7 separate regions of the Homo sapiens genome follow, and all the other regions are linked to region 5. A link means that fine-mapping ties the variant in region 5 to the plasma level of a protein whose gene starts in the linked region. Region 5 holds a variant in brackets. A gene starts in each other region. All regions are shown on their forward strands.

Evidence for each region. PIP is the posterior inclusion probability: the model's chance that the variant is causal. Protein levels are from antibody-based Olink assays in UK Biobank. Linkage for the fine-mapping came from a reference panel and not from the study's own genotypes, which makes the PIPs less certain.
Region 1: it holds the start of IL22RA1, and the variant in region 5 is fine-mapped to the plasma level of the IL22RA1 protein (UK Biobank, PIP above 0.99).
Region 2: WIF1 starts here. The variant in region 5 is fine-mapped to the plasma level of the WIF1 protein (UK Biobank, PIP above 0.99).
Region 3: it holds the start of ERN1, and the variant in region 5 is fine-mapped to the plasma level of the ERN1 protein (UK Biobank, PIP above 0.99).
Region 4: TNFSF12 starts here. The variant in region 5 is fine-mapped to the plasma level of the TNFSF12 protein (UK Biobank, PIP above 0.99).
Region 6: ST3GAL1 starts here. The variant in region 5 is fine-mapped to the plasma level of the ST3GAL1 protein (UK Biobank, PIP above 0.99).
Region 7: it holds the start of INSR, and the variant in region 5 is fine-mapped to the plasma level of the INSR protein (UK Biobank, PIP above 0.99).

The regions. Positions count from the first base shown.
Region 1 is chr1:24,141,514-24,145,903 of GRCh38, forward strand. It overlaps IL22RA1 (interleukin 22 receptor subunit alpha 1), which reads right to left and starts at 1,627. Exons shown (of 7, transcript NM_021258.4): 1 at 1,527-1,627. The coding sequence starts at 1,569.
Region 2 is chr12:65,121,141-65,125,507 of GRCh38, forward strand. WIF1 (Wnt inhibitory factor 1) reads right to left here and starts at 165. Exons shown (of 10, transcript NM_007191.5): 1 at 1-165. The coding sequence starts at 51. RefSeq lists a silencer at 326-485.
Region 3 is chr17:64,127,972-64,131,971 of GRCh38, forward strand. It overlaps ERN1 (endoplasmic reticulum to nucleus signaling 1), which reads right to left and starts at 2,173. Exons shown (of 22, transcript NM_001433.5): 1 at 2,005-2,173. The coding sequence starts at 2,058. RefSeq lists silencers at 1,684-2,133, 2,224-2,353 and enhancers at 2,774-2,973, 3,024-3,073, 3,978-4,000.
Region 4 is chr17:7,546,649-7,551,000 of GRCh38, forward strand. TNFSF12 (TNF superfamily member 12) reads left to right here and starts at 2,410. Exons shown (of 7, transcript NM_003809.3): 1 at 2,410-2,664; 2 at 2,826-2,873; 3 at 3,472-3,547; 4 at 4,151-4,204; 5 at 4,295-4,330. The coding sequence starts at 2,506. It overlaps TNFSF12-TNFSF13 (TNFSF12-TNFSF13 readthrough), which reads left to right and starts at 2,410. Exons shown (of 11, transcript NM_172089.4): 1 at 2,410-2,664; 2 at 2,826-2,873; 3 at 3,472-3,547; 4 at 4,151-4,204; 5 at 4,295-4,330. The coding sequence starts at 2,506. RefSeq lists silencers at 2,305-2,494, 2,525-2,604.
Region 5 is chr9:133,261,550-133,265,946 of GRCh38, forward strand. It overlaps the pseudogene ABO. Among named protein-coding and RNA genes, the nearest start is that of OBP2B, 54 kb to the left of the region's middle. The variant GCGCCCACCACTA/G (reference allele first, on the strand shown) is at 1,813.
Region 6 is chr8:133,569,576-133,573,971 of GRCh38, forward strand. It overlaps ST3GAL1 (ST3 beta-galactoside alpha-2,3-sialyltransferase 1), which reads right to left and starts at 2,312. Exons shown (of 10, transcript NM_173344.3): 1 at 2,118-2,312. ST3GAL1-DT (ST3GAL1 divergent transcript) reads left to right here and starts at 997. Exons shown (of 2, transcript NR_186509.1): 1 at 997-1,295; 2 at 1,483-4,281. RefSeq lists enhancers at 72-141, 99-952, 312-531 and silencers at 2,322-2,811, 3,002-3,061.
Region 7 is chr19:7,292,128-7,296,524 of GRCh38, forward strand. INSR (insulin receptor) reads right to left here and starts at 2,287. Exons shown (of 22, transcript NM_000208.4): 1 at 1,665-2,287. The coding sequence starts at 1,764. RefSeq lists an enhancer at 729-1,487 and silencers at 1,469-1,528, 1,579-1,718, 1,859-2,138, 2,159-2,548, 2,689-2,868.

The sequences.
Region 1 (4,390 bases), not on the chromosome of region 5:
GGGGCATGTTGCCAAGGCAAAGGACCCTGGGCTACGTGGAGGTTGGCACCACTTTTCAGGAGGGAACTGCAGTTAGCTTCCTGAAGTGGGGTAAGTGAACCTAGGCCCACTCCTGTCTTTTAGGGATGTCAGGGTCTAACAAGATCTCCCCCTCTTCTCCCACCCTCCTCGCTCCTTTTCCTCCTCAAATCTATCATCCATTCCTCAGCCTGTGTTGCTTCGGCACTTCCCGGGTGAAAGTCTATATTGTGAAATCTGGGGAGACATGTGTTGTGTGGAGCCTGGCAGCCTGGCGGATTTATAAAAGGCAACTTGTTTTTTCACATTCATGTGGAAAAACAATGTTCTGTCAACCAGCTGGGAAGCTAAGGAAAAATACACAAACAAGAAACAATTCCACATGCTCTGGAGTCAGCCTAAGATTGGGGGGGTGAGGGCCCGGTGTGTGCAGCGCGAGGCAGCTGACCCTTGACAATCTCCTAAGGGCTATTTCTTGGGGTCCCCCATCTCAAAGGGCTGGGAGCCTCTAGGATTTCTAACCAGTATGGCTGAGGGTCTAAAGGGACGTGTCTTGGTGCCTCAAGGGGGTGCCTCACATCTTCCTGGAACGCCCAGCTTGATGCTGGGAAGCAGACTGGAGGGGGTCCCACAGAGCTGGAAGCCCTGGAGACGCAGGCAGCCCTGGCGGGACAGTGGCAGAGAAGGTGGGAAGCTCTGCCTTTTCGTGGGCCTCGTCCTGCACTTGAGCAAGGAGGGCCTGGCCGAGGCCATACCTGCTCGCCATCCTCAATCAGGACTATGCTTTGACTTCCTAAGGAAGTTCCCTGAATTTCATGCAATGCACCAGGAGAGCAGAGAGAGAGTCTAGGGTCTCATGTAACGTTCTCCATAATGATGAGCCCCCCACTCCGCTCACTTTATTGGCTTTGAACACTATGCCCTTAAGACCTGTTTCCAAATGAGTCCTGTGTCTTAAGACCTATTAATGTAGCAGACCTGGCCACTCTAGGAGAAAATGCTCTTTCAGATCTATGATAACAAAAGGGGCCAAAGAGGCCCTGCAGGGGCATGGAGGGAGGCAATAGTGAACTCAAGCTTCGTTTCCCCCGGTCCTTCCTCCTCCTCCCCTGTCAGGCCAGTGCCAAGTGAGAGGCAGAGGAAGGATGGTACAAACTGTGCCGACACCGTTTGAGGGACCGAAGGATGTCTGCCTCCTCCAGGCCAATTCTCCATTCACTGAGGTGCAGCGATCCAGCACCCCCAGTTCAGACAGCTGGCTATATCCCTCAAGACCCGAGGGTCCTTTGGGTCCCTGGAAGAACCCAGGGTCTGAGGCACCCTCTCATGCCCCCAGCAAACTAAGCTGGGCATTTGCTTCTCCGTGAACACCCGGCACCCTGCTCAGCCCTAGCAGGGGAGAAACTGAAACTGGCTATGCTCGGGCTGGGGAGGGTGCTGGGGAGATGACCCTGATCGTTGGCCCCTGGGATAAGGGAGGTCTGACCACAGGGTAGATGGGCACTCACCAGCCAGGGATCCCACAGTCAAGATGGTCAGCAGCGTCCTCATCGGGGCTGGCACAGAGCCCTCCCTTGGCCTCTACTCTGCCGTGCACAGAGAGAGGGCTGGGAGTCTTGGCGCCCTGGCAGCTGGCTCCACCCGGGCATGGGGCGGGGAGAAGGGGGTGGGTGGGACCTGTGCCGGTGGGGAGCAGGGGTACAAAGGTGTCCTGGCCCTGTGTGCTCTGGAATTCCAGGTTCTGGGCGGGATCTAAGGGAGTTCCCTTCCGACTTGCAGAAAACAGCAATAGTAACAGGCTGGCTTGTTTATCTGGTCCGGTGGCTGATTCATCCCAAGTGGTTTATCAAGGAGCTGAGGGGCAGAAAAGGCAAGAATAATCCACGATATGCAGCCTTATCAAAAAGCAATTTGGCACTGTGGATCAAAAGCCTACACCACATACATATCTTTTGCTTTAATAATTCTATTCCTAGGGGATTTACCCTGATGAAAATAACTGGACAACAGAGGGGGAAAAAAAAGGTCCCAGAATGTTTCTTGCAGCAAAGGAAAAGCTGTGACTCCTTTGCTTTTCTGGCAGGAGGAGATTGAGGGCACCCGATGCTCCTCCTTGATCCTCCATATCAAGGCAGGTCCCCACGCTTGGGGTGGGCTTGGGAACAGCTCTCCCCTAGAGAGGCCGTTGGGGGTGAGGAAGCCCAGCCGCTCTTACCTTGAGCCTTTGGGTCTAGGATCTGCAAAAGTTTAGAAAAAAAATGGAACTCAAACTTCAGTGATTCTTTCTGCTGTGCTAGAGATGGGGCTGAACTTCATGAATGGGGCTTTGGTTCGGGACGATGAAGATTCAGGCTGCTCTCCCATCATTTTGCCACGTAGGGCAGGATCTGCACATGAGCTTCGTGTGAATGAAGGGACAGGTGTTTAGGAAATGGTTTTCTCCTTCCTGCAGGGCCTGGAGAAGGTAGAAGGGCCCTGGGGCCTGGACTCTGGTCAGGGTGGACACGATTGGAGGGTCCTGCCCCTGGGGAGAGTTTGCCTGGCCCCAAGCACACAAAGGCAAGCGAAATTTTAGCAGGGATCCTGCCAACGGGTTGGGTGTAATGGGCTGTGATATGCTGAGATCGGTGTTTAAGTTTTTCTTTCCTGAATTGTAATTGTTATCAGCCCTGATTGCTAAAGTTTGTTTGACAAAACAGCCAAATCTAAGCTGTGCTTTGGAGGAATTAAGGTAGGGCCCATGCCAGTCATTTCCTGAAACTGCAGGAAACTACATTTTCTAGACTCCTTTATCAACTGCTTTCTGATAGGTTTAGCCCCTGGGGGAAGACTGGGGAGGCAGAGATCAGAGCATTTCTCCCCTCGTTTTCTGTTTGAGTGGCTTCCCCAGCAATGGCCATATCCCTCTGCAGTTCTGGCTCCCTCTGGACAGTCCATCAGCCAGGCAACCCCTTATGTCTTTCTTGTTCCTGTTTGGAGGCCAGCTCCTGGCTCTGGCAACACCTTCTCCCCTCATCTTTCCTTTCAGTTGGTGGGATGGCACAGCTTCCTGCTTTGGGGAAATCTCTGAACTGTCTGTCCTGATTAGTGTCCCAGCTCCTTCATCCTCTGGGTGACGAGCTCCTTTACATTAAAGTCCCTTGGTCTGAAAGACTGGAGAGGTTTCTGTGCTACTGAATGAACCATGATGGATAGAGGGTTTTTGATGACTTTGATGACAAGGCAGTGTGGGGAAGCTACAGCGAGAAAAACAGGTTACAAGGGACGCTTAGGGAGAAGAGCAGGCTTTGGTCCCAAGTGGCTGGCCGAGAGGACAAGACGCAGCCCCAACAGGTCTGTGGAACACGAAAGTGTTCCTTGGGGCCTCTCAGAAGCACTGGAAGAAGGAACTTGATGGAGGAAAAGGGCATCCTGTAGTTTCGAGGGCCTGTGGTTATGTAGGAATTAACGGGAAGGAAGACACCTGGATTGCTAAGGAATGTGGGAACACCCAGACTTCATTTCTAACAGTTTAAGAAAAAAATAGGTGGGGCGTGGTGGCTCATGCCTGTAATCTCGCACTTTGGGAGGCCAAGGTGGGCAGATCACCTGAGATCAGGAGTTCGAGACCAGCCTGGGCAGCATGGCGAAACCCTGTCTCTACTAAAAATACAAAAATTAGCCGGACATGGTGGCGGGCACCTGTAATCCCAGCTGCTCGGGAGGCTGAAGCAGGAGAATTGCTTGAGCCCAGGATGTGGAAGTTGCAGTGAACCGAGACCGCACCATTGCACTCCTGCCTGGGCGACAGAGCGAGACTCCGTCTCAAAAAAAAAAAAAAAAAAAAAAAAAAGGAGAAAAAAATGAAAACAACCTCCATGTCTGACAATAGAGGTTTGGTTAAAAGAATAATGGTATGTCCACCCAAAGCAAGACAAATGCAGCTTCCAAAATAATGCTGGAGAAAAATGTTTCGTGACCTGGTAAAGACTCATCATATTTTTTCAAGTGAAAAGAGGCATAACATAACCTATGTACAGTACCACCCTGGCTAAAACGCACACCTGCACACGCAGAGCAAACTGCGTGTCTTCATGGATATAGATGAAAACACTAGGGGCGTTATCTCTGGGTGGTAGTGGAATTGTAGGTGATTTTTCTTTTCTTCCCTTTGCTTATCTGCATTTCCTAAAGTTAATATAGGAAATACACTAATTTATATTAAGGGAAAGCAAGGTTACTAAACATAACAAATCGGCATTAAAGACAAGCCTTTGTTGGGGCTCTATCCTCCTCCTGGAATGCCATTTCCACTCCCTTAGCCAATTCCCTTTTCCTCGAATCTCACCAAGACAGTTTTCTTCTGCGATATGGCCCTTCTTGATAACTCCAG
Region 2 (4,367 bases), not on the chromosome of region 5:
GATGCTCCAGAGCCAGAGCGCGGCGGCAGGGAAGGCGCTCCTCCGGGCCATGCTGCTCAGGACCTCCTCGCTGCCGGGAAAACTCCTCGTGCCGCACCTACGCAACCTGGCGCCGTCAGATACTCTGCTGCGCTGCAGCTCCCTCAGCCAGGGCTGTTCCCGTTTAGACGGCTGGGCGCGTCGCCTCCCGGCCTGGGTGCCAAGGAGCCTGCGAGAGCAGGAGGAGGGGGCAGGCAGGACGCGGGAGGAGGAGGGGGGGACCAGCGGGCGCGAGTCGCGCAAGAAGATGGGGCGCGGGCGGGAGTGGGGGCGGCAGAGACGTAAGACTGGCAAAGCTGGCGAGGCCAGCAGTCAGCGGGGCAAATAGAGCGAGAACAGAAGAGCGGGAAGGGCTGGCGCGAGCGAGGTGCGAGCGAGGAGTGGGGCCCGCGAGGCCTGGGCGGCCGCCACTTGGGGGCGCTGTGGGGCCCCCCCGGGGGCGGGGCCGCGAGGGACCCCCGAGGCTGCATTCACAGTGCGGTGCGCCCAGTGGAGCGCCCGCGAAGTGGGCGTGTAGGGCTGGCGGACCCGGAGAAGGGCACTCAGAGACCCCTGGGACATCACTCGCCACCTCCTCGGGCCAAGGGAGGCTTCGGGGGAGGGAAATGGGGAGAGCAGACAACGCTGGGCTTGACTGAGTGCTGATGATGGTGATGGTGATGGTGATGATGATGATGATGATGATGATGAGGTGATGACTCCTGTTCCTCCTCCGGCGCTCACTGAAGGCGCAAATTGCCCTTCGTCTCCCTTTCAGCCAGTAGGATTCCTCTCTCCGCCAACCCTATGCGCTCCGTTCTGCGATAGGCTGGCACTTTGCGCGCTCCCAAGCAGTTAAAACTCGAGGCTCGACTGTCCGATGGTGCCGATGGCAGGCGCTGGCCTTGGCTCGAGGCGCAGGGCGTCCAGCTGGTACTTGCCCGACACCCAGCATTTGGGGATTCCCGTCTGTCTCCCTGATAACCCGGCAGTGCCCGGAAGAGTGCCCTGGGCCCTGGACGATAGCTGTACCTGACCCTCCGGGGTAGGGCTCCTCTAACATCGTGGATATCTTCACGTTTGCTGATATTTTTTAAAAGTTGCTGAATTCGGCCGGGCGCGATGGCTCACGCCTGTAATCCCTGCACTTTGGGAGGCCAAGGCGGGCGGATCACCTGAGGTCAGGAGTTCGAGACCAGCTTGGCCAGCGTGGTGAAACCCCGTCTCTACTAAAAATGCAAAAATTAGCTGGGCATGGTGGCGGGGGCCTGTAGTCCTAGCTACCCGGGAGGCTGAGGCAGGAGAATCACTTGAACCGGGAGGCGGAGGTTGCATTAAGCCAAGATCGTGGCACTGCACTCCAGCCTGGGCGATAGAGCGAGACTCCGTCTCAAAAAATATATAAATAAATAAATAAAATAATTTTTTAAAAGTTGCCGAATTCACAGGTGCGTGGGGGCAAAACCAAGGCTCTGGCCTCGTCTGTGAGAAGCATGCTTGGCCGGCAGTGGGCTGCAGCATAACCTATCCACCTGGCCCAGCAGAAAGAACTGATTTTTGCCTCCTGCCTAATTCCTCGGATGCACAAAGAAAACGGAAGCAAAAGGGTTTTGTTTTGTTTTGTTTTTAATTAAAAAACTTAGCCTTCGGACTCATAAAAGGTTCATTTACTTGTGTTTGTTCTTTAGTACCCGAAGCTGTGACAAATGCCTCAAGGATCAAATGTCTGGGGCTGGGCGTGGTGTTTCAATCAGTCCTTTATAGAGTAGCAGATGCCTCAAGAGGGAAAAACAAACAGAAACAACAGAAGAGATGGTGGACATGTGCAGGCATCAAGTTAAATCAGTGTTAGGTTCTGAGAATATAGATTTCCAATGAGGAAATATTTGCAGCTATACAACCAACCAATAGAAAAAAAAAAAAGGAAAAAAGGAATTAGACAAGAAGTCTATGACTGATTTGAACTTGCAGTGTCTTAATTTTTAAAGTACTTTTATTTTAAGTGCTTACTTAATCCTCACAACTCTTAAGTAGGTACTACTATTATTCTTATTTTACTGACGAGGAAAGAGGGCTCAAAAAGTCCAGTAAGTTGACTGTGGATATCCAGCTGGTAAATGAGAGTAAGGGTTCAAATCCCAGACACTCTGATTTCAAAGCCCATTCTCTTAGTAACTTATACCTCATACTGATAAATAAATCATAATTAAGTCTATTTGCATCCAAAGCTTCACAGTGATTCTTCCTTTACAATAAAAATATTTACCTGTTTCCCAACATTGCATTATTTTTTATTTCTATGAATATTCATGTATATAATGTATGAACATTAGGCTACTTTTAAAACACTTTAATGTTATAATGCCAGTGTCACCCAGGTAAAGATAATAATTTCACAGCACAATAGGCATTTTCTTTAACTCGGAGCGAGTGGTTTTAACATTTTTTTCTAGTTCTGCGCAAACCTCTATGGCTCTTGGTGCAAGGACGCCCTCTACAGGTTTTCCTAATCAAATACTAATTGAGAAATATTCATAAAATTTATTTTTTGGTGCAAGAAAAAGAGGAACTAAATTCTCTCCTAACTCGGTTTCCTCTGAGTGAGGTTCTTCTGCAGCAGTTGAATTTGGTGTTGATAACAATGGTAATCTATCTTGCTATAAGGACGTTTTTTTTCTTCCAGAATGGTTGTTTTCTGTTTACTTCTCTCCAGCACAGGACACTTAGAAAAATTATATTTTATTAGAGATAGATAAAGAGAAATGCTATTTAAAAAATTTTTGATATAAACTCGTTTGGTTATTAAAGGGGACAAAGGAACACATGTTTTGTTATACAACAGTGATTTTTAAGGGTAGCAGCGTGGTTCTTTTTGTAGGGAGGTCTATCTCTAAGAGATGAATCAGGCTTGACTCTCCTTTCTGTTGTTAAGGAGCAGTTATGTAGCTATTTCATTAAGAATTGATTTAAGTTTTTAAATTTCTTTAAACAAACATGTGACAATATTTACTAGCATATGATAAAAATTTGGAAATAATGTGCTAGGCAAGTCAACTTCATTTCGTTTGAAAATTCTGCCATTTATTTTCCAGTTCATTATGCTTCCTTTCCTTGTGCGATTCCCTCTCATCAATTATGTGTGCAGGCAGCTTCATTTATTTGTTCATTAACTCATTTGCTTATTCAACAAAGATTTATTAAACAGCTATTATATGTAAGACACTGACCTGGAAATTATAGTACAAATAAAACATGATCATAGCCTTCAAAGAGCAATAGAGCTACTAAAATAAGTAAGACAAGTACCTAAACAACCATAATACAAGGCAGAATGTGGTGATTGTTGATAAGGCAGAATGACTGGAAATTCATAGAAGAAATCTTGTATCTAGAATTCTGCACATTTGTTTGTTCATTCATTCATTCAAAATATATTTACCCGGTGTCTGATGTTTGCCGTATATAAGCACAGGGGATAGAAAGGTAAGTAAAAAGACAGCCCTGCTGTCAAAGAACTCTCAGTCTAACAAGGGAGTGTGTTGAGAATAAACAATAGAGAGGAATGAACGCCATGGTGGGAAAATGCACAGGGTATTTTGGGACTCAAGGAAAATCCTTCGAGGCAGACTGGGTTCTGGGAAGACTTTCTAGAGTAGAGCATACTTGAGCAGTCTTGAAGGTCAAAGGGGAATTGAGCATGCAAGGGGGAAAGATAAGGAACATCCATGCATAGACAGTGGCAATAGTGAGAGCAAGAGACATGAGAAAGAATGGCACCATGCAGGATCTGCAGGTGCTGACCTGTAGTATGATGAGCCTGGAATGGGAGAGGGAGGGAGCAGCTGGGGATGAAGCCCAAAATGTAGGTAGGACCTGGTTATGGAAGATTGTGCTGAGAACAATTCCAAATAATTTGTTTAGAGACGCTGTCCTCAAAGAGGCGAGGCGTAACTCCCCACTCCTGAAGTGTGGGATGTGCAGAGTGACTTCCTTTTATAGCGTGCAGTGTGGAAAGTGGGGAAAGTAACAAACCTGACAAACACTACTTCAACTAGGTGATCAAGATCATCAACAGTGATGAGTCATGTGATAGTATGTGCCCTTGATATGATGTGATGAGAATGGTACTTTACCTATGTGATCTTGCTCCTGAAAACCCATAACCCCAGTCTAGTCACAAGAAAAATATCAGAAAAACCCAACTGAAGGACATTCTACAAAATTCCTGATCAGTATGCCTCAAAACTGTCAGTGATCAAACAAAAAAGGGAAGTCTGAGAAACTCGTAGCCAAGAGGAACCTAAAGACACATGACTACCAAATGTAATGTGCTATCCTGGACAGCATCC
Region 3 (4,000 bases), not on the chromosome of region 5:
TGGGAGAAAATTCTAGGAGTGAAATTCTGACCTTTCTTTTTTTTTTTTGAGACAGAGTCTTGCTCTGTCACCCAGGCTGGAGCACAGTGACTCCATCTCTGCAACCTCTGCCTCCCAGGTTCGGGTGATTCTCCTGCCTCAGCCTCCCCAGTAGCTGGGATTACAGGCCTGCGCTACCACGCCCGGCTAATTTTTTTTTTTTTTTTTTTTTGTATGTTTAGTAGAGACAAGGTTTCACCATGTTGGCCAGGCTGGTCTCAAACTCCTGACCTCAAGTGATCCACCCACCTCAGCCTCCCAAAGTGCTGGGATTACAGGCATGAGCCACCGGGCCCGGCCTGACCTTTCACCTAAATATAGTTACGCTAAACTATAACCTTTTGATAAGGGTCTGGAATATTTTATCATGAACTCTGAGAAGTTTGGATTTCTAAATACAAATTGGAAATATTTACACGAACTGAAACTATAGTTCCAACTACAGCTAAATCGTTATTTTTGGCTCTTTAGCCTAAGTTATTCAATAACCAAACACTAGAATCCAGTGACAAAGTAGCAAAAGGAAAGATGTGGCAAAGGAAACCATTATACACCTATCCCTTGACGTTATGAAATGATCGAATTCATGTCAAACATTTGGTCATTCTGCTTATACCTTCGTTTGTGAACAGATGCCAGGCAGTAGTTACCAATCCAAGGTGAGGTGCTCAAGTTCAAAACCTGACCTTAGTTGTAAAAGTGGGGTTTTTATTTGAAAGAAAAACTTAACTTCCACAAGTTCTATTATAAAGAGTCTACAAATTTTCCTTTATTTAAAAAAAAAAACCCTGAATTTGAAAAAGGCAACCTTATTTATTTACTTCTCCTGTTTCCAAATTCTTGTTACTCCAAGAGTACAGACAGTTATTTACCTAAAATGCAAAACCTCCAAAGAGTTCACACGGTGGCTGGCACTCAGGCACACACATGTCAGTGCTCTACTGGGACACCTGGTACATGATATCCCTATTAAAGAGTACACAGTACCTTTAAAGAGGTCATTAAACAGAACACGGACAAATTTGCCACGCTCACATCCTGAACAATACATTTTGTGAAAAACATTCGCTAATTTAGGTTCTTCCAACCAGAAGAAAAAAAAAAGCCAAGTCTCCCACAAAGTGCCCCCAAATCCACAGCTGAGTGAAGGTCATAAAGAGTTAAATGAATGTAAACCAGGCCCTATCATTCGTCTCCTCCAGAAAAAGATGAAAAGACATTTCTGATGGCCCCAGGTGCTCTCCCACGAGGAGACAGTCTTTCATTTGAGGTTCTGAAGCGGCCTCACCTCGAACCCATGCGGGATCTTCCAAGAGTGCAATTCCCACAGCTCCACTTGCTCAAGGAAGTCTCGGTGCACAGAAGGAAGCCTGCAGCCTCCCAGTACCAAGAAACCGGCAGGGCAAGTGGCAGAAGCCAGCTCTCGGGTGAGAGTCCTTACTCCCTGTTGCATTCGTTCCCCAAAGTTTTCGAATTTTTAAAAAGTTCAAACAAGGATTCGAAGCGCAGGACAGACCCTTCCCCTGGATCCCAACGCCCTTTCGGCTCCTCCGCGGCCCCCGCCAGGCAGCGCCGGCGCCCGCCCGCGAGGAGGAGGGTCCCGCAGGTGGGCGGCCTCCTCAGGCCGGGGCCTTCTGGGACCCCCAAGTGCCGTGCAGGACGCCACGAAGTTGCGCCCGAGCCCGCGGGGTCCGGGGAGCCGCTGCCCGTGACAGCCGCGCTGGCTTGGGAGGCTCTTCGGGCGGCCGACGCCTCGGTGGGGCCGCGACTCCCGTCAGGGAAGCTCTCCCGGCCCGGTGCCGCCTCCTACGCCCGGCCCGAGCCTCCCACGGCTGGGCTCACGGGGCATCTGGCCGCCGCCGTCGCGCTCCCAGCTCGGACTCCAGCCCCGGCGCCGCGACGCTGCCCCGGCCCCGACCCGGCCGTCGCGAGCTGTCCTCCACCCCACGCTCCCCGGTCACTCACCCCGAGGCCGGGCAGCAGCAGCGTCAGCAGCAGCAGCAGCCGCCGGGCCGGCATGGCGAGGACTCGGCCCTGGCTCCGGGGGCGGTACGGACAGAGGACGGGGCGGGGGCGCCGCGACGACAGCGAGGCGGTGACCGAGCCTCAGCGGACGCAGAACTGACTAGGCAGCGGCGGCACCCCCATTCCCGGCCCTATAAGCGCTGGGTGCCGCGGCTTCTTCCGGTCGGGGCGGAGTTGCGGGCGGGGACGGGGCGGGGCCAATCTAGGGGCGTGTTCGGGGCGGAGATGGGGGCGGGCCGAGGGCGTGCCCCGGGCGGGGATGTGGGAGGGGCTGGCTCGGGGCGGGGCCGAAGGCGGTGCTGGCATCTGGCTGGCTTCGCTCATGAGGCGTCGGCGGCTGTAAAGGACCAGGCCTCGGCATCCAGCGTCTGGGGGCGCTGGGGGATCGAGGCGCGAAGCTTGTCTGTGGCTGGGAAAGACCGGCAATGCCCCACCAGGCCGTCCCATTAACCCTGCCGAGGGACCTGCCGCGTCAGACTTCATCGGGGAAAAGGGCGGGACACGGGCGGTCCCGGGTGCCTAGAAGCCTCCTTTTCGTCTTTCCGCCGTGGTGGAATCATCCGCAAGGTTTACCGAGGCGACCTCCGGAGCGAAGGTTTCAGCAGCTACCGGAGGCTTCCAGCAAACACGGCGCAGCTGCCCCGCGCGGCAGTCGCAGTGTTCACAGCCCTAGGGTTCTCCAGCTGTGCCTCGTCTTCTCTGGGGCCCCTTTCTTCCTTTTCCTTGCCCTCAGGAATTCCCCTCAAGTCATATCCACCAGCCATCACTTCCGCTTGGAATGAACCACGGCCAAGTCACTCACCAAAAATTATAAGGAGGAAACCATTTCGGCCACTTGTGTCACGTGCGTTGATGTGACACGTGTGGATGTGAAGTTTGAGATGGTCTGCGTCACAACTCGTTGGAGGGAGTGGGTGGGTTGAGGCCTCCTGCAAGGTCTATGTGAGGGTGTGGAGTACTAATTAGAGTTAAAGAGCTCGGCAGCTGTTTGGTCACTGGCACTGGCCTCCACTGAGAGGGACATGGGTAGGGAGGACACGTCTTTTGCAAGGAAAGACAGTAAACTGAGATTTGGAGCCCAGGGAAAGGTATCTAACTTATCCTAGGAGAAAAAGAAAACGGCTATGAAATTCTCTAATTTTTCCTGACTTGCTTATATGAGAGCCTAAGATTTTTCAGGTTTGAAGGAAAAGAATAAGCACTCCTAGACAAAACAACAAAGTAGTAGTGGGGGACTGGCCAAATGTCCAGTCTGTGTGCATTGTGGTCAATCTTATCCAACTAAAACAGACCAAAATGACAGTAAGCCCAAATCCTGCAAATAGAGCTCCCCATTCCTAACCCCCTAGGCCTGGATTACAGTGAAGGGACTAAGTCCTACCGCATGCTGGAGACTCCAACACATCTCTGTAAGAGTGGGAAGAATCTTGGCAACTGTGAAAACAGTAGAGACATTTTGAAAAGTGTTACCTGAATGTCTAAATGCAAACAGAGGTTTGGGATTGGCAGAGAGATGTACTGAGAGGCCCAGCACTCCTGAGCAGTATAGCCGGGCTTCCAGGGAGGCCTACAGCCCTGAAACTGGGAGGAGCTCTTTATTTCTTGACCTTTTATCTTTTCTTTTTAGAGATGAGGTCTCACGGTGTTGCCCAGGCTGCTCTCAAACTCCTGGGCTCAAGAGATCCTCCCCAGTAGCTGGGACTTCAGGTGTGCCCCACGACACCTGGCTTGGGAGGACCTCTTTAGTGATTACCTGTCCAGTTTGCCAGCTGACAACAGCATCTGTTAGACCCTGTATACTTGACTTAAAAGAGAAGCTTGACTGAAAAATGTCACTTTCACATCCCCCCCTCTGGTGCTTTTTCTCAAACAGAGTAAGTCTAGGAGGGGAAAATTTGCTGTACTGGAACTCTGGCAGCCCTTTTACAATTCAAAA
Region 4 (4,352 bases), not on the chromosome of region 5:
TTTATTTTTTATAGAGACAGGGTCTCACTCTGCTGCCGAGGCTTCGGTTCAATGGGGTGATCATAGCTCACTGCAACCTCAAACTCCTGGGATCAAGTGATCCTCCTGACTTAGCCTCCACAGTAGCTGGGACTACAGGAGCATGCCATCGCACCTGGATAATTTTTCTTGTATTTTTTGTAGAGATGGAAAGGGGTTCTCACTATTTTGCCCAGGCTGGTCTTGAACTCCTGGCCTCAAGAGATCCTCTCGTCTCAACCTCTCAAAGCTCTAGGGTTACAGGCGTGAGCCATGATGCCCTGCCCGTATTTATTTATTTTTATTTTATTATTTATTTATTATCTTTTTTTTTTTTTGAGACAGGGTCTTCCTCTGCAGCCCAAGCTGGAGTTCAGTGCCCAGATCATAGCTCATGGCAACCTGGAATTCCTGGGCTCAAGCGATCCTCCTGCCTCAGTTTCCCCAGTAGCTGGGACTACAGGTGCACACCATGATGCCCAGCCTGTTTTGTTGCTTTTTTTTTTTTTTTTTTTTTTTTTTTTGAGATGGAGTCTTGCTCTGTCGCCCAGGCTGGAGTGCAGTCATGCGATCTCGGCTCATTGCAACCTCCACCTCCCGGGTTCAAGCAATTCTCTGCCTCAGCCTCCCGAGTAGCTGAGATTACAGGTGCCCGCCACCGTGCCCAGCTAATTTTTGTTTTTTTAGTAGAGACAGGGTTTCACCATCTTGGCCAGGCTAGTCTTGAACTCCTGACCTTGTGATCCACCGACCTTGGCCTCCCAAAGTGCTGGGATTACAGGCGTGAGCCACCACAACTGGCCCCAGCTGTTTCTTATTTACATTGTGATTTCAGTTTTGAAAATTTTCTGGAGATTCTAACTGCTTTTCTTTCTTTGCATACTCTTTTTTTTTTTTTTTTTTTTGACAGGGTCTTACTCTGTTGCTCGTGTTGGAATGCAGTGGTGTGATCACAGCTCACTGCAGCCTCAACCTCCCAGGCTCAGGTGATCCTCCCATCTCAACCTCCTGAGTAGCTGGGACTACAGGCATGCACCACCATGCCCAGCTCTATGGATGCTTTTTCTTGACTCTCTTTAAGTATATTAGGTAGTACTCTTTGTATCCTGAATTATCTCTGTTTCCTCCAATGTCAAATTTTGTTTGTTAATTTTGGTCTTTCTTTCTTTTTTTTTTTTTTTGAGATAGGGTCTTGCTGTGTTGCCCAGGCTGGAGTGTGGTGGCGTGATCTCAGCTCTCTGCAACCTCTGTCTCCTGGGTTCAAGCAATTCTCTGCCTCAGCTTCCCGAGTAGCTGGGAACTACAGGCGCCTGCCACCACGTCCGGCTAATTTTTTTGTATTTTTATTAGAGACAGGGTTTCACCATCTTGGCCAGGCAGGTCTCGATCTCCTGACCTCGTGATCCACCCGCCTCAGCCTCCCAAAGTGCTGCGATTACAGGCGTGAACCATCGCGCCCAGCCAATTTTGGTCCTTCCTTCCTTCCTTCCTTCCTTCCTTCCTTCCTTCCTTCCTTCCCTCCTTCCCTCCCTCCCTCCCTCCCTCCTTTCTTTCTTTCTTCCTTTCTTTCTTTCTTTTTGAGACAAGGTCTGTTGCCCAGGCTGGAGTGTAGTGGTGCAATCACAGCTCACTGCAGCCTCAAACTCCTGGGCTCAAACAATCCTCCTACCTCGGCCTCCTGAGTAGCTGGGACTACAGGCGTGGGCTAATTTTTTAAAACTTTTCTGTAGAGATGGGGTCTTGCTCTTGCCCAGGCTGATCTTGAACTCCTGGCCCCCAGCCTTGGCCTTCTGGGATTACAGGCGTAAGCCACCTGCCGGACCAATTTTGGTGTTTCTTTTGCATGCTGCTGGTCCTCCTCAGATGCTTGGCAATCATTGGTAATGATGGGCTTCAGAACGTGCTACCGGCACAGTGAGTGTTTTAAGCTGAAGGAATTTGAGAAAACCGCAGAAGCCGAAGGATCTTTCTTACCTTCTCCTGCCCTTCTTCCCTGAACCAGGTCATACAACCTGGAACTCCCTGCCCTTTTCCTGAAGAAGCAAATAACAGCCTCCTGCGAGAGGCGCCCTCCCTGCACCTGGGGGAAAGGAGGGTCCTTATCTCTGAAGACACAGGGACACAGAAGAATCTGAACCAACAGGCCTTCCTGAGTTCCCCACCTCCCCGCAGGAGGTGCCCGCACACGCATAGCCCCGTCGCTCCCGCGGCCGCACGCAACGGACCTCGCCCTGGTGGTGCACGCCCGGGCTGGGCGCTCAGAGGTCGGGTGGGCGCCCACTCCGTTCGCTGCGCGCACAGCGCCCGGCGAGAGGCTCGGAGTTTGATCACACACAGCGTCCGGCTTCCTGTCCCCAGCGCCCCCTCCCGCCCCGTTTCCCTTGCCCCTCCCTCTCCCCGGCCCGATCCGCCCGCCGGCTCCCCCTCCCCCGATCCCTCGGGTCCCGGGATGGGGGGGCGGTGAGGCAGGCACAGCCCCCCGCCCCCATGGCCGCCCGTCGGAGCCAGAGGCGGAGGGGGCGCCGGGGGGAGCCGGGCACCGCCCTGCTGGTCCCGCTCGCGCTGGGCCTGGGCCTGGCGCTGGCCTGCCTCGGCCTCCTGCTGGCCGTGGTCAGTTTGGGGAGCCGGGCATCGCTGTCCGCCCAGGTGAGGCCCCGCTGCGCACCCCTTCTTGGGCACATCAGGAGCTGAGACTGCAGAGGGGCCGCTGGGGGCCGCGTGGGCTGAAGGCAAGGGGAAGGGAGGATGGGTGGAGGGTGAGATGTCAGGTGGAGCGGCACAGGGTGACGCTCCCTCCTTCCCAGCAGGAGCCTGCCCAGGAGGAGCTGGTGGCAGAGGAGGACCAGGACCCGTCGGTGAGTGGGCGTGGGCGCGGTCTGCAGGCTGCTGGGGCATGGGAAGTGTGCACAGCCGAGGCTGCAGGTGTGTGCAGCTGTGCCAGCCGTACTCGAGGTGTGTGCAGGGTGTGTGTGAACACAGTGCGTGCATGGGTGCGTGTCTGCAGGGGTGTGTGTGCGTGGTGACAACTCTGTGTGAGGGGTTTGTGCTGGGGTTGTGCCACCTGAGTCTGAGGTGTTTATTGGCTGGGGGTGACGTGGTTGTATAAGATATGTGAGTCTGCGTGGAAGAGGGGTGCGGTTGTGTACAGGGTGTGTATCCTCTGTGCGTGGTGACTGGGTGCGGGCATGTGTGCAATGTGCCAATTGAATGCAGGGTCTGCGTTGGTTGTGTGTGTGGGTGGGAAAGTGTAGCTGGTCTAGAGGAAAGGGTGAGGACTGGGGCCTGACTCCCAGCTTCACCTTTGCCCGGGGCCCCAGCTGTAGTTGGCTGAGGGGCTTAATCTGTCCCTGACTTCTGTGTCTATTGCTGGCTGGTGGCTCTCCTGACAGGCCCCGTATGTCTCACTTTATATCTCTGGGAGTCTGTGGTTGAACCCTGCCCTAATTCCCCTAGGAACTGAATCCCCAGACAGAAGAAAGCCAGGATCCTGCGCCTTTCCTGAACCGACTAGTTCGGCCTCGCAGAAGTGGTGAGCATCCCTCTATCCCAACCTCAGGAAGCGGGCAGAGCAAAAACCATTATCCACAGGGAGAAACTGAGGCACGGAGGGTGAAAGGAGTTCAGAGTCATGCAGCTAACCAGCCAAGACTCAAACCTAGGGATTCTCGCCCTCCTCTGAAGCTCCTTCTGTCATATGGATGTGCTCCTTCAGACCCTACCCCAAACAGGAAGGCAGGGTGGCCATGAGTTAGAAGAACTACTGGGATCCTGATGGAGACTAGGCCTGGCAGTCAGAGGCCTGGGCCCCGGTAGGCAAAGAGACTTAGGAATGGGATGATGGGGTGGCCGGATGACCACGTGTCCAAGTCGGCATGCAGTTGTCCTGGCCCCCACCTGTTATCTCGGTGTGATTAATAGCAGCTTCCCGTTTTGCTCTCAGCAGTATCCCAGTGTGGATGACAAATTATAGTCACTCTACTTACTGAGGAAGATGAGGCCTGAGATTCTAAGGCCAGGAGTCTGGACAAGAATAAGGATGCCAGGGTTCCTGAGAGGGGAATGGGGCTGGGAGAGTTGCTCTGGGACCCCCACTAGGGCCCGCTTTGCTCATCTGTCTTTCCTTGATCCTCAGCACCTAAAGGCCGGAAAACACGGGCTCGAAGAGCGATCGCAGCCCATTATGAAGGTGGGTGATGGGTGAGCCATACCCAGGAGGAGAGGGGCAGGTGGCAGAGGGTCAGGGCAGGTCTCACCAGCCTTTTCCTGTACTTTACAGTTCATCCACGACCTGGACAGGACGGAGCGCAGGCAGGTGAGACCCCATCCCCCGACAC
Region 5 (4,397 bases):
GTCCCACACCGGGAGGTGGGCAGGAGGGTGGTCCCTGGGATATTGCTCACGTATGGGCACCTGCTGGAGCTCCAGAGCCCCAGCTCCCTCACCCCCCGCCACCAGTGCCTTGGTCAGTGCAGTCCCTGAGGCCACGTCAGGGAGTGTTTCCAGACCGTGTCCAGAGATGCCCCAGTAGAGGTGACAGGTGACTTCACTCTTGGTTCTGGGACCTTCTGTGTCTGGAAGCGACTAACAGCTTGGGACCCAGAATTGCCTTCCCCACCCCCAGCCACGCAATTGTGGGCAAGGGGCTTGCTCTCCCAGCCCCAGACTCCACACTTAGGAAAATTTTAAATGGGAGTGAGATGAGCCTGTTGCCCAGGTGAGGCTAAAATAAGGGAGCAAGTAAGCACACCCTCCGCCAGAGCTGGACGCAGGCAATAACTGTCCTTAGGACCCTGATAACTGTGATACTTGGGGAGCTCAGGGAGGCCCCATGGGTCTGATTGGCTGCTGTGGTCACTTCTCCCCAAACCAGGCCAGCCTCGATGGTCAAATGTGTCTTACCCAAACAAGACCAAGACAAGCATTATTAGGAAAAGGATCATAGGTCGAAGTGCGTGGCATTTTGGTTTTCCTGGAAAACAGGAGTAGAAAAATCACATCACTCACCCTCCTTCTCTCACCTGCCCCACTTTACCTGTCCCGCCTTGTAATTCAGGCATCACACCCTGCGACGGGCCTTCATCTGCCAAGATGGTCCCTCTGCCCCACAGGTGATGCTCTGAGCCCCACCTGAGCATCTCCAAACCCAGTCCAGATCTGGCCCTCCTCCCACTCAGAGAAGAGGGAGGCGGTCTGCTCCTCCCAGCTCATCAGCCCGACTGCTCCTGCAGACTCTGAGAGCCACCCCGGCTTCCCATTGACCTCCTTCCACTCAGCACCCCCTTCCCCTGGGAGACCGGAATGAACCACACTGAAATGAGCACGTCGAGGTCACTGTCGAACCCACCGAGGGAGGCCAGGACAGCCTCATGGCCAGGCTGAGCCAGGAGCCCAGACCAGTTCCTGCCAGGGAGAGGAGCCACCAACTTCCCCTAGTATCTCCCTGCTGTCTCAGAGGCTCATGTTCTGGAAACAATCATTGTCTTTAAGGTGATTTTATGTATATTAAAGTCACGTACAGTAGTTCCCTTATCCACACCTTCGCTTGCTGGAGTTTCAGTTACCCATGGTCAACCAAAGGCCAATAATAGGTGAGTACAGTACAGTAAAATATTTTGAGGACAGGCATCGTGGCTCGTGCCTATAATCCCAGGACTTTGGGAGGCTGAGCCAGCAGAATTGCTGGAAGCCAGGAGTTCTAGACCAGCCTGGGCAACATAGTGAGAACTCATTTCTATCAAGAAAAAAAAAAAAAAAACAATTAGCTGGGCATAGTGGTGCATGCCTCTGGTCCCAGGAGGCTGAGGTGGAAGGATCACTTGAGCCTAGGAGGTGAAGGCTGCAGTAAGCCATGATCACACCACTGCACTCCAGCCTGGGTAACAGAGCAAGACCCTGTCTCTTAATAATAAACAAAACTACAACAACAAAAAACCCACAAACTAAGATATATACACATTTTTTTTTAGAGAGACCACATTCACGTAACCTTTATTACAGTATATTGTTTTTGTTGTTGTTGTTGTTTTGTTGTTGTTTTTGAGATGGAGTTTTGCTCGTTGCCCAGGCTGGAGTGCAAAGGGGCACCTTCGGCTCACTACAGCCTCCGCCTCCCGGGTTCAAGCAATTCTCCTGCCTCAGCCTCCCGAGTAGCTGGGTTTACAG[GCGCCCACCACTA/G]CGCCTGGCTAATTTTTTGTATTTTTAGTAGAGACAGGTTTCACCATGTTGGCCAGGCTGGTCTCGATCTCCTGACTTCAAGTGATCCACCCGCCTCGGACAGTATATTGTTATAATTGTTCTATTTTACTATTAATTATGGTTGTTAATCCCACCCGGTGCCTAATTTATAAATTAAACCCTATCATAGGTATGTGTGTACAGGAGAAAACATACTCTCTGTAGGGTTTGGTACTATCTGTGGTTTCAGACATCCACTGGGGATCTCGGAACCTATCCCCCGCAGGTAAGAGGGGACTATCGTTTTCACAAGGGCAAGCCTGAAAGGCGTCTATCTCCTGGCCCAGTTCCTATTCCTTCCCCCGAAATCAGTCCCTTTCAACTAATTCATCTGTTACTTCTTATCTTATAATGCTTGTGTGTGTTTACCTCCACCTTTCTAAGTCCTGTGACCACGGAGCGATTTATCTCGAATAGCTTCTTGAAACAGAAACGTGGGAGGCAAAACATTTGAACTTTACATGTCCTAAATTATTTTTTCCATTTTTGTAGTTGGTAGATCGTTTGGCTGTAGGGAAATCTTGGTGGAAATAATTTTCCTTCAATGTGGCAAAAATGGTTCCATTTTTTAAAACTTTGAAAATTAATTTAATTTGAGGGATAACTTACATCCAATAAAATGTGCCCACTTTAGGTATACGGTTTTGATGAGTTTCACACAATGTATGTACACATGTAATCACCCCAGTAAGGTCCCTCCTGACCCTGACAACCATGGATCTGATTCCCTGGCGTTTCCCATACACGGAATCCTCTGATACATGCTCTTTTATGTCTGGCCGCATCACACCGCATGCTGTTTTGAAGATTCACCTATATTGTCACGTGTATCAATCGTTCGTTCTTTTTCATTTCTGAGAAGCACGCCATTGTTAATCCGCCACAATTCATTTATTCTGTCTCCTATTGACAGACACTGTGGTTTTTTCACTGTTCGGGGCCACTAGCAACAAAGCTTCTGTAAACACTCATGTGCAGGTATTTGTGGACCTGTGTTTTCATTTCCCTTGAGTAAATACCAAGGAATGGAAAAGATGGGTCATATGGTAAGTGTATGTTTAACTTTGTAAGAAACTGTGTTCCAAAGTGGTGACTGAATTTTCCATTCCCGCCAGGAATGTACGAGAACCACAGTCCTTGCCAACACTTGATGGTCACTCTTTTATCCTTTAGCCATGCTAGTGGATGAGGAGTGGTATCTAAGTGTGTCCAATGACTAAGGAGGTAAATCATCTTTTCATGTATTTATTGGCCATTTGCTTGCTTCTTATGAAGCCTGTCCAGATCTTTAGCTCATTTTATTATTTATTTATTTATTTATTTACTTATATATATTTTTGGGGGGCACAGTCCCACTCCAGTTGCCCAGGCTGGAGTGTGGTGGCATGATCATGGCTCACTACAGCCTCGACTTCCTGGGCTCAGGTGATCCTCCCACCTCAGCCTTTTGAGTAGCTGAGACTATAGGCATGCACCACATCTAGCTGATTTTTTGTGGTTTTGGTAGAGATGGGGTTTCACCATGTTGCCCAGGCTGGTCTTGAACTCCTGGGCTTAAGCAATCCACCTGCCTCAGCCTCCCAATGTGCTGGGATTACAGGCATAAGCCACCTCACCTGGCCCTCTATTTTTATTTTTTTTAGACAGGATCTTACTCTGTCACCCAGGCTGGAGTGCAGTGGCACGATCACAGCTCGCTGCAACCTCGAACTCCTGAGCTTAAGTGATCTTTCCCCCTCAGCCTCCTGATTAGGTGGGACTACAGACATGCACCAACATGCCCGGCTAATTATTCTACTTTTTGTAGACACTGGGTCTCATTAAGTTGTTTCTCTTTTTATTATTGAGCAGAATTTATTTCTATATTTTGGATACAAGTCCTTTGCCAAATACAAATATTACAAATATTTTCTCGCCAGGCACAGAGAGACAGACACTGCATGTTCTCACTTATCTGTAGTATCAAAACATCGAAACAATTAAACTCATGGAGATAGAGAATAGAAGGATGGTTCGCAGAGACTTGGAAGGGTAGTGGCAGGGGTGAGAGGGTATGTAGGGATGGTTAATGTGTACAAATAAATAGAAAGAATGAATAAGACCCAGTATTTGATAGCATAACAGGGAGACTATAGTCAATAATAATTTAATTGCACATTTAAAAATAACTAAAAGAGAGGTCGGGCACAGTGGCTCATGCCTGTAATCTCAGCACTTTGGGAGGCCGAGGCAGGTGGATCACCTGAGATCAGGAGTTCAAGACCAGCCTGGCCAACATGGTGAAACCTCATCTCTACTAAAAATACAAAAACTAAGGCCAGGCGTGGTGGCTCACGCCCGTAACCCCAGCACTTTGGGAGGCCGAGGTGGGTGGATCACGAGGTCAGGCATTCGAGTCTAGCCTGACCAACACGGTGAAATCCTGCCTCTACTAAAAATACAAAAAATTAGCTGGGTGTGGTGGCGCATGCCTGTAATCCCAGCTACTTGGGAGGCTGAGGCAGGAGAATCTC
Region 6 (4,396 bases), not on the chromosome of region 5:
CTGTACCCAGATATTGGCAGAGGCTGAGGGGCACGGAGTGGTGAACTCTAGTCAGTCATTTCAGCCAACCATGGGATTTCAGAAAACAGCCGGCAGGGGTCCTAATGTTTGGGGCAGGAAGGGGAGGTGCGGGAAGGCACTGAGGGACCCCCGCACTGGGCGCCCCTTCCCCACCGCAGAGACAAGCGGCAGTTTCCACAGCAGCCGGCAGGGGGCAGTGCACCTTGCCTTTTCGAAGCCTCTGGGCGCTTGGGCAGCGCGGGGTAAAGAAAATCAGGAGGCTCCGCCCGCAGCTTCTACGAACAGGCCAGGAGTAGAGCCCCCGCACGTAGTAGGTGCTCCAGGCACGTCTAGAAGCCTAAAGGGCTTGGTCGATACATTTGAACTCCATTTTAGAGACTGGAAGGGAAGAAGGGGGCGTCCGGGCCCCTGCCAGCACCTTCCACCTTGGGGCCTTGTCAATGAACACTGCGTTAGCACCTACGACGTGCCAGGCGCCCTGGCGACTATTGGAAAACCCGGCTCCCCTCTCACCCCGTTTTCCTCGTTGGCGAGTCGGCCTCGCCTCCTCCTCCCGTCTCTTCCTCTCACCACACACACCCAGCCGCAGAGCGGGGGTGGGCGCTCGCTGTCTCCCTGGAGAACCAGCTCGTCGCAAACTTGCGGGGCTTGGGGACCCGCGAGGGGGAGAAGTCGGGAGAGGCCAGGGGTGCCCGGAAACAATCACGAGAAAGCCGGGCGAATGCCTGATGCAGGGACGCGGCGAGCCAGTCACTGCCCTCAGGGTCACGGCTGACTCCCTCTGCGGGACTCGCCCAGCCCGCGAGACGCAGTGACCTGCCCAACCCCCACCCCCTTGCGCGCTTCTGGGTGCGCACGTGTCCCCTCGCCCAACACACCACCGAGCCCCGCGCATGGTACGGCCGCCGAGGACCCTAGCGTAGGAGGGAGGAGCGAGTCAGGGCTCCAGCTGACGAGCAGAGCCAGACGATCCCCACACGCTTCCTGGGAGACCCGGCTGCAAGGCCAGGCTAATGCGCGCTCCGACGTCTCTGTGCCAAGCCGGGGCGCAAGCTCAACCCCCATCTCAAGTTCAGCCGCGCTTCCTCCCGCAAGGTCACGCTTAAACACTCGCGCAGAGAAAGGAGGAGCGGAAAGTTGCGCCACCGTCCCGATTCCAAACTAACTGTACCCTCACCAGAGCGCCTCGCCCCAGGGTCACCGCTGTCCGTCCCCGTGCGCTCCCAGAAGGGGTGGCCCTGCCCCCACGCAGGTCACACACACGAGAGACACAGGCAAGTTGCTAACTTTTGTCAGATTATTTCTTGGGAGCTGCGACGCCTCACGGGGTTGGGGCGGATTCAGAGTTTCGAGTTGCCACTAACACGACTCCGGCCGTGCTCTCCTTGGCCCACCCGCGTCCCCCACTGTCCGCCACGCCGCGTTCAGCTCTCTTGTCCCGGGTGTCAACTTCACCCCCAGATCCGGAGCAGCGCGCTCTGACGGCGTCCCCGGGGCCGATAGCCACCTCCCGGATCTGCGCCTGCTTGCAGCGGATTGGGGGACTCGATCCGGATACTGTCCCACGGCCGCTCGTCCAGAACACTGGCGGCCTCCGCGGTGTCCCAGCCTGTGACCCCAAATCCGCTCGAGAGCGCCTGAGCCCGGCCACCCAGCGAGGTCTCCTCCCACGGGCGGCCCCAGCGGAGGAGATCCCAGCCCGGCGCCGGGTGCAATGTCACTGGGGCTGCTTTCGGGAACCGCTGCCCGGGACTTGGCGTAGGTTCCCCACAGAGCTCCAGGCAGCTCCTCCAGTGTCGGCCGAAGACCCCTAAGCCCGAACCTCCACCCCGACCTTCTTCCTCTCCCAAAGCCCTGGGTGGTCGCCGCTGCCAAGGAAGGGGTCTCCCTTCGAATGTCTTCCACTAGAATCCCGGGGTCTTCAGTCCCAGCTCCACTGTCACACCCTCCTAGTCCCCTCCCCACCCCTTCAGTTCCCGGGTCCAGACAATCAACCTTCCACTCCGAGAATCCACAGGAAACTGCCCGAGCCCCAACTCAGGCGGACGCAGCCCCCGCGCACCCCGAGCAGGGTTCGCCTCCGCGCGCGCACTCACCACGGCTGGAGACACGCTGGAGTTTCCGGGATTTGGGCATGAAGGGGTTCGGAGGAGAATACAGGGGTGTGGGTGTCCCGGACACTTGCCCCCTTCCCAGCTCACATCGCCTCTTCCTTCTCTCTCCGCTCTTCTTCCTCCTCCTCCTCCCTCCGGTCTAGGGCTCTTTGTCTTTGCAAAGTGTCGAAACTGTCTGGCATAGTGGGCTCCGCCGGCGGAGGCTGGAGCCGAGGAAGCGAGGAGGCGGGATGAGGGTGGGAGAGGGCTCGGGAACACCTTCCCCCGGGTGTAACGGGAGTGAAAGGCGGGGCGACCGAGGAGGGGCCGCCTTCCCTGGCCGGCCGGGGCCGGGTGCCAGGGCGCGCCAGAGCCCAGCCACCGCCTCCCCTGCGCGCGGCCCTCCCCTTCCTCCGCCCAGTGCCCGCCCCTCCCGACTCTGCGCCTCCGTTCGGCCCCGCCCACCCCAACTTGGCTCGGCTTTCCCTTGGCTCCGGGCTTCCTGCAAGCCGAATTTAGCTCTGCCAAGCCACGTGGACCGCAGCGGGCTCGGCAGAGGCCGAGCCTGGGAGACGCCGGAGGCGGCGGCTGCGGCGCGGGGACCTGATCGGCGCCCCGAGAGGAGCTCCCCGCTCTCTGGACGCGGCCCTCAAGCTGGCGGGGCTAAGGAAGAGCGCCCGGGAGGCCCGGGAGCCACTGGGGTCCGTTTCAGCAGGAAGACGGGCACGCACCGAGAGGATGGCAGTGCCCAGAAGAACTCGAGTCGGGGGCACGGTGGGGAGAAGGGGCCGATCCCCTGCTGGCGACCGGGCAGAGCCACCCACTTCCTCTAAGGGCGCGGGACTCGAGGTGGGATTTAGGGAGGGGGAAGGGAGGAGCGTGGGCTGGACGACTCTTGCGGCCAGAACCGCGTTCAGAGCCACAGAGCCGGGCACTGCGGCCGGCCCTGGTCCCGGCCCCGGCCCTGGCCCAGCCCTTGCCCTGGCTCGCCTGCCGCCGCTTTTTCCTTCCAGATGCGGAGGCTGCGGCTGGAGCTTGGGGTTTGCGGATTAGGCTTGCAGTTATTCAGCCCTCCCTCTTTTACAGGGAAGCGGGGGCGGTGGAGACTTCTTTTGCTGAAAGGCAGAGTGCAGCGCTTTGATGCTAAATGCAGTACACAAGTCATGTAAATCTGGTTTTACGGTTCTTAACCCCTTACTGAGACTACCTCTTTCGCAACTTTTCGGAGGAATGTTAGAGGAAAGAGGCACAGTTTGCCTTTGGGGTCATTGCATCCTTCCAGCGCCCCTTGCTCCAGCTGGAGAGAGATCAACCTTTTGCAGTGGAAGGGGAGAGTCCCCCAGCCTTTGTTTCATCAGACGGCTGCTGTAGTACAGGGATTCAGGCCAGGGCCCGCATGGCCGGACTTCTTGGTTCAAATCCTGCACTGCCACTCAACGGATGTGTGAGCTTGGGCTAGTGACTGAACCTCCCAGCCTAGGTGACTCTGTGCCTCGGTGTCCTCATCTGTGAGAACCGACCTAAGAAGTGTCTGTCTGATAAAGCTGTTGTGATGAGTTAGTGAATTCGTACACATAGAACCTTTAGAACTGTCTTTGACATGTAGTAAGTCAGCTGTGTAGATGGTGGGTTTCTCCAGTGTCAGGTCCCTGCCCACAGCAGGAAGATGACCTGTGCTAGAAGATGGGGGCTAGGGTGTTGGGGAAGACTTCAGGGACTTGGGAGAGAAAAGGAGAAATATTCAGAGATGAGAAAAGTAGAAGAAAAACCAGCTTTTAAAAGGGGGAGGAGAGAGAATGAGAAAAATAACTACTAGAAAGGGAAGGAAAAGATGAATAGCCTTTTAGGTACTTCGGGACCTGCTCTGAGACCTCTTGCCTGACGCCCTTGGTTTTTGATAGAATTCTAGAGAAGGGGTGAGCCCTTTTGTCTGCCTGGACACATCCTGTGGGCTTTCCTCTTTCTGAAACTCAGGTCAAGGTGTTCACTGCATCTCCAGATTGCTTGTGTGCATGGGAGGAGGGGGGCAGAGAGTTCTGCTTACATCGGCTACTGTCCCCTCCACCAGCAGCGTCTTCCAGCAAAGAAGAGCTTCTAACATGCACCAGACTTTTAGCTTTGGCTGGGAATATCGTCTGGGCCAATAAAGAGTTTTTGGATGAAATAACAAAAGTGTTGTTTATTGTATGGATCAAATAATGTATGGGAACATATTCGAAAAATAGAAAATGCTATACTCATATAAGACTATGCTACTATATCCTAGTAGATTCTGTGGAAAG
Region 7 (4,397 bases), not on the chromosome of region 5:
TTGGCCAGGCTGGAGTGCAGTGGTGCCATCTGAGCTCACAGCAACCTCCTCCTCCCGGGTTCAAGCAATTGTCCCGCCTCAGCCTCCCAAGTAGCTGGGACTACAGGCGAACGCCACCAAACCCAGGTAATTTTTGTATTTTGAGCAGAGAAGGGAGTTTCACCATGTTGGCCAGGATGGTCTCCATCTCCTGACCTCGTGATCCGCCCGCCTCAGCCTCCCAAAATGCTGAGATTACAGGCTTGAGCCACCGCAGCTGGCCAGATTTTCTTAACAAGAACTCCAACTAACCGCCACCCTTCATTGAGCACCTACTGTCTCCCAGGCACCTGGGGGCGGGGCTGGGGGGGGGTGGGCCCGGGGCTTTTAGACATTATGTGATTGACAGAGTCGACTCAGCAAACCCGGTTGGTCCACTCTAGCACCTGATTTTACATGCACCCGTTTCCCCATCAATACATTTAAGAGCTTCAATTCCTTCCCTCCCTGACCCCTTCCTCATCACGACTGATTTCCTTTTATGGAGAAATCTGAAACAGTAACCCAACAGATATTTTTAAAGCAGGGCCTCAGACCCCACAGTGGGAAACCCAGGCTATATTCCTTAAATGATTGCGCCATCTTCATCTTACAACCCCAAAGGTGCCTATTGTCAAGCCCAAGGAAGATGCTGCCCACACGTGGGAGAGGGGCCCATGGGGTCAGGGGGAACGAAAGGCTCACTCAAGGTCAAAGGCTCCTTCATGAAGCGCAGGGCTGAGGGGAGAGGAGGGGTCAAGGAGACAGCAGACAAGGGACAGTAGTCCAGATTCTTGGGCAGAACGGGACACACAGAGGCTCAAGTCCTGGCTCTGGCACTGACTTTAGGGCAAGGGAGTTATGCGTCCTACATGAGCCTCAGTTTACTCCTCTGTGAAATGGGTGCATAACTGTATCTGCCTCCGGGGGCCACTGTGACAGTCCAGAGAGATAAGATAGACTAGGCTGTGGCGTGCGGTGATACCAATTACAATAAATAGGGTAAAAAACCGCCACTACTTCTGCTACAATTGCTGCTGTTGCTAAGGCTTTAGAATTTGCCTCCGGACATCTGGAAACAGAACCCAAAAGGGTAAACATGGACCTAGAGTCCGGGGTGGCCACGGGCCTAGATCCAAGGTAGTTGGGTAGAGGGGGGCTCTGCAGTCCCTGACCCCAGGCAGCGTCACCCACCGGTGAGGCACTCAGGGCGCTTGGCTCTACCTACACCATATGCGCTCGGGGGACTTGGCTGTTCGGGGCTGTCCAGACCCAGTGACCCCACTTCCCGGCCGCGACCCAAAGATGACGCGTGTCGTGTCTCCGGAGCGACTTGGGCTCGGAGGGGCCGGGGCACGGGTCGGAGGCGCGCTCCAGAGAGGAGCCCGCGGCGGGGCGGGCACCGGGGCAAGGTTCCTCGGGCTCAGGTCGGGCACGCAGGGCGCGGAGGCGCGAGCCCGGGCGGGCAAAGGCCAAGGTCAGAGGCTTCCCGCTCCCCCTACGCGATGCAGGAGCTACCGTCCTGGCCACCGCCCCCCGCCCCTGGGGAGGGTTCTCAGTCCACAAGCGGGGGCTCGATTTTGGCTTGGGTGGGGTCCTCTCCCCATCGCGGCGCTCCCCGCCCACGCCCGCGCCCCCAGACTCACCCTCTCCGGGGTACAGGTGGCCCGCGGCGCCCAGTAGCAGCGCGGCCACCGCCACCAGCAGCGGCGCGGCCGCCGCCCCCCGCCGGCCCCCGGTGGCCATGGCTGCGGGAGCGCGGGGTCTCCTCGGATCAGAGCGCGCGGCGCTGGCCCGCGGGGGTCATGCTCCGAGGCGGCCACCCAAGAGGCGCTGGGGGCCGCGCGTCCTTCTCTTCCACGCCCGCGACCCGCGGGCCGCAGCCCCCCTGCCGGGGAGGGCCCAGAGGCAGCCCCGGGAAGGGCGCGCGCGGCTTCGCCAGCTACAAATACTGAGCGGAGGCCCTTGCGGTGGTGGCCCCGACCCCCCGGCCGCTGCGGCCCGGGCCCCGTCCCAGGATCTCGGGGCCCGGAGCTCCGCGCTGCGCCCGGGACTGTCTCTCGGCTCTCGGCCCCGCGCGCTCTGGGTCGCGATCTGCGGGCTCCGGGACAGAGGGACGCGCGGACCGACGGACTAGCTGACTGGCGGGCGGGCACCTGGGCTGGCGGGTGGCGGGCGGGCGGCGGGAGAGAGGGCTGCTCGGGCCCGTAAACAACGCGGCCCGTCAGCTGGGCCCCGTGCGGGCCGCGGGAAAAGGCGGCGCGGATCTGGCCTAGGAAGGGACTCTGCGCCCGGGAGAGGCCCAGGAGAGGGAGGGAAAGCTTGCAGGGGAGGGAGGTGCCGCCCGGCCCCGCCCCGCCCCGCCCGCCTCCCCGCCTCCCTGTGCCGGGCCCCGCGCGGGAGGCCCTGGGCGCGCCGGGACCGAGGGCGCGCCCCAGATCCGCGCGCCCTACAGCCCCGAGTCTCCTCCAGTTTCAGACCCCCGGAGGCGCCCCACAGGCCCGACGCAGCGGCACAGATCCTTTCTCTACCATTTTGCTATTTTGTTCATAGTGGGCTTTGGAGGATTCCTGTTGATTTTTTAAAAAATACTGCATTAAAATGTTTATTTTGGTGACTCGAGGTGGTTTTGGTTTCTTTCTTTTTTTTTTTTTTTCACTCCCTTAAATTTTGCACCCCAGGCGAGTAGTGTCTCACTCGCCTTTCCTCAGTCCGGGCCTGGCCAGCGACACTCGTCCCAGAGCGCGTGGGCGCCCCCAGATGTCCCGCCCGCGAGTGCGCCCCGGCCCAGGGGCGAGACCCAAGCCAGGCCCCTGGGGACAGCCACGTGCCCGCGTGCCCAGTGCGCTCCCTGTGTTCAAGTTGGAGAAATGACACCTGGAAAAATGTGCAGACGCTTCTGAAAGGGCAAAGACGACGCCAAAGAAGACGCCGGAGACCTCGAATAGGGCGCAGGTGGACATCTCTGATTTTCAGCAGACCAGCCTGTATGTGTCTGAAGTCTAGCAACGACATTCACCAACAAGGCGGGACAGCGGTTCCACCTACCTTACTGCAGGAGAGGAAGGGGCTTTCAGTATAGGAAAGCCAGAACTCAATGGGAGGAGGGTTCCTCCACCCCTCACTCCTGTGTGGTCTTGGACCAGGGACTTTTCTGTCTCTGGGCCAGTTTCACTTGTGTAATGGGTTTAATAATACCTGCATGCCAGTTCTGGGGAGGTACCCGGGAAAGAAAACTTAAGAAAGCGCCCAGCACAACCCTAGACCCAAGGCATTCATTCTTCTTTCATTCAATAAACAGTTTGCTAGGAGCTGGACCCACTGTTCATGCAACAGGCCAAACCTATTCCTGCCTCTGGGCCTTTGCCCCAGCATTTCCCTTGCCCGTAACACTCCAGGATGGCTTCATCTCTGAAGTGCCATCCCTAACCATATTTTTGCAAATCCTCCCCCCAGTTCCGTTTCCTTCTCTCTCTCTCTCTCTCTGTTTTTTTTTTTTTTTTTTTTTTTTTTTTTTTTTTTTTTTTTTTAGATGGAGTTTTTCTCTGTTGCCCAGGCTGGAGTGCAATGGCCAGATCTCAGTTCACTGCAACATCACCTGCCTGGGTTCAAGTGATTCTCCTGCCTCAACCTCCCAAGTAACTTGGATTACAGGCATGCGCCAGCACACCCAGCTAATTTTCTGTATTTTTAGTAGAGACAGGATTTCACCATGTTGGCCTGGCCGGTCTCAAACTCCTGACCTCAGGTGATCCACCGGCCTTGGCCTCCCAAAGTGCTGGGATTACAGGCCTGAGCCACTGCGCCTGGCCCCTTCTCTCTCATTTTCATAGCATGTTTACCCCACTACCTGCAATTGTTTGTTTTTTTTTTTTCTTTTCTTTCTTTTTTTTTCCTTTTGACAGAATCTTGCTGTCACCCAGGCAGGAATGCAGTGGTGCAATCCTAGCTTACTGCAGCCTTGAACTCCTGGCCTCAAGCAATCCTCCTGCCTTGGCCTCCCAAGGTGCTAGGATTACAGGCATGCGCCACCATGATTGGCCTTGAAATTCTTATTCGTTTTCTGTGTCTTCTCCCCTTCCCGTGAAGGCGGAAATCTTTTCGGTCTTGTTTCACTGCTTAAACCCAGTGCCTGACAAATCTGTTGCTTAATAAATATTTGTTGAGTGGGAGAATCAACAAGCAATAAGTAATAGGGGATTTTTCAGTGAGCAAAATAAACATGACCCATTTCCTTATGGAGTTCACAACTGAGCCAGGGAGAGAGCCCTTAAAATAATTGAGTGTGTAATGAGCTGAGGGAAATGGGAGGTGCATAGGGAGGGGTTTGCTGAGGACATGGGGTTTTTTGTTTGTTTGTTTTTTGATGGATCTTACTC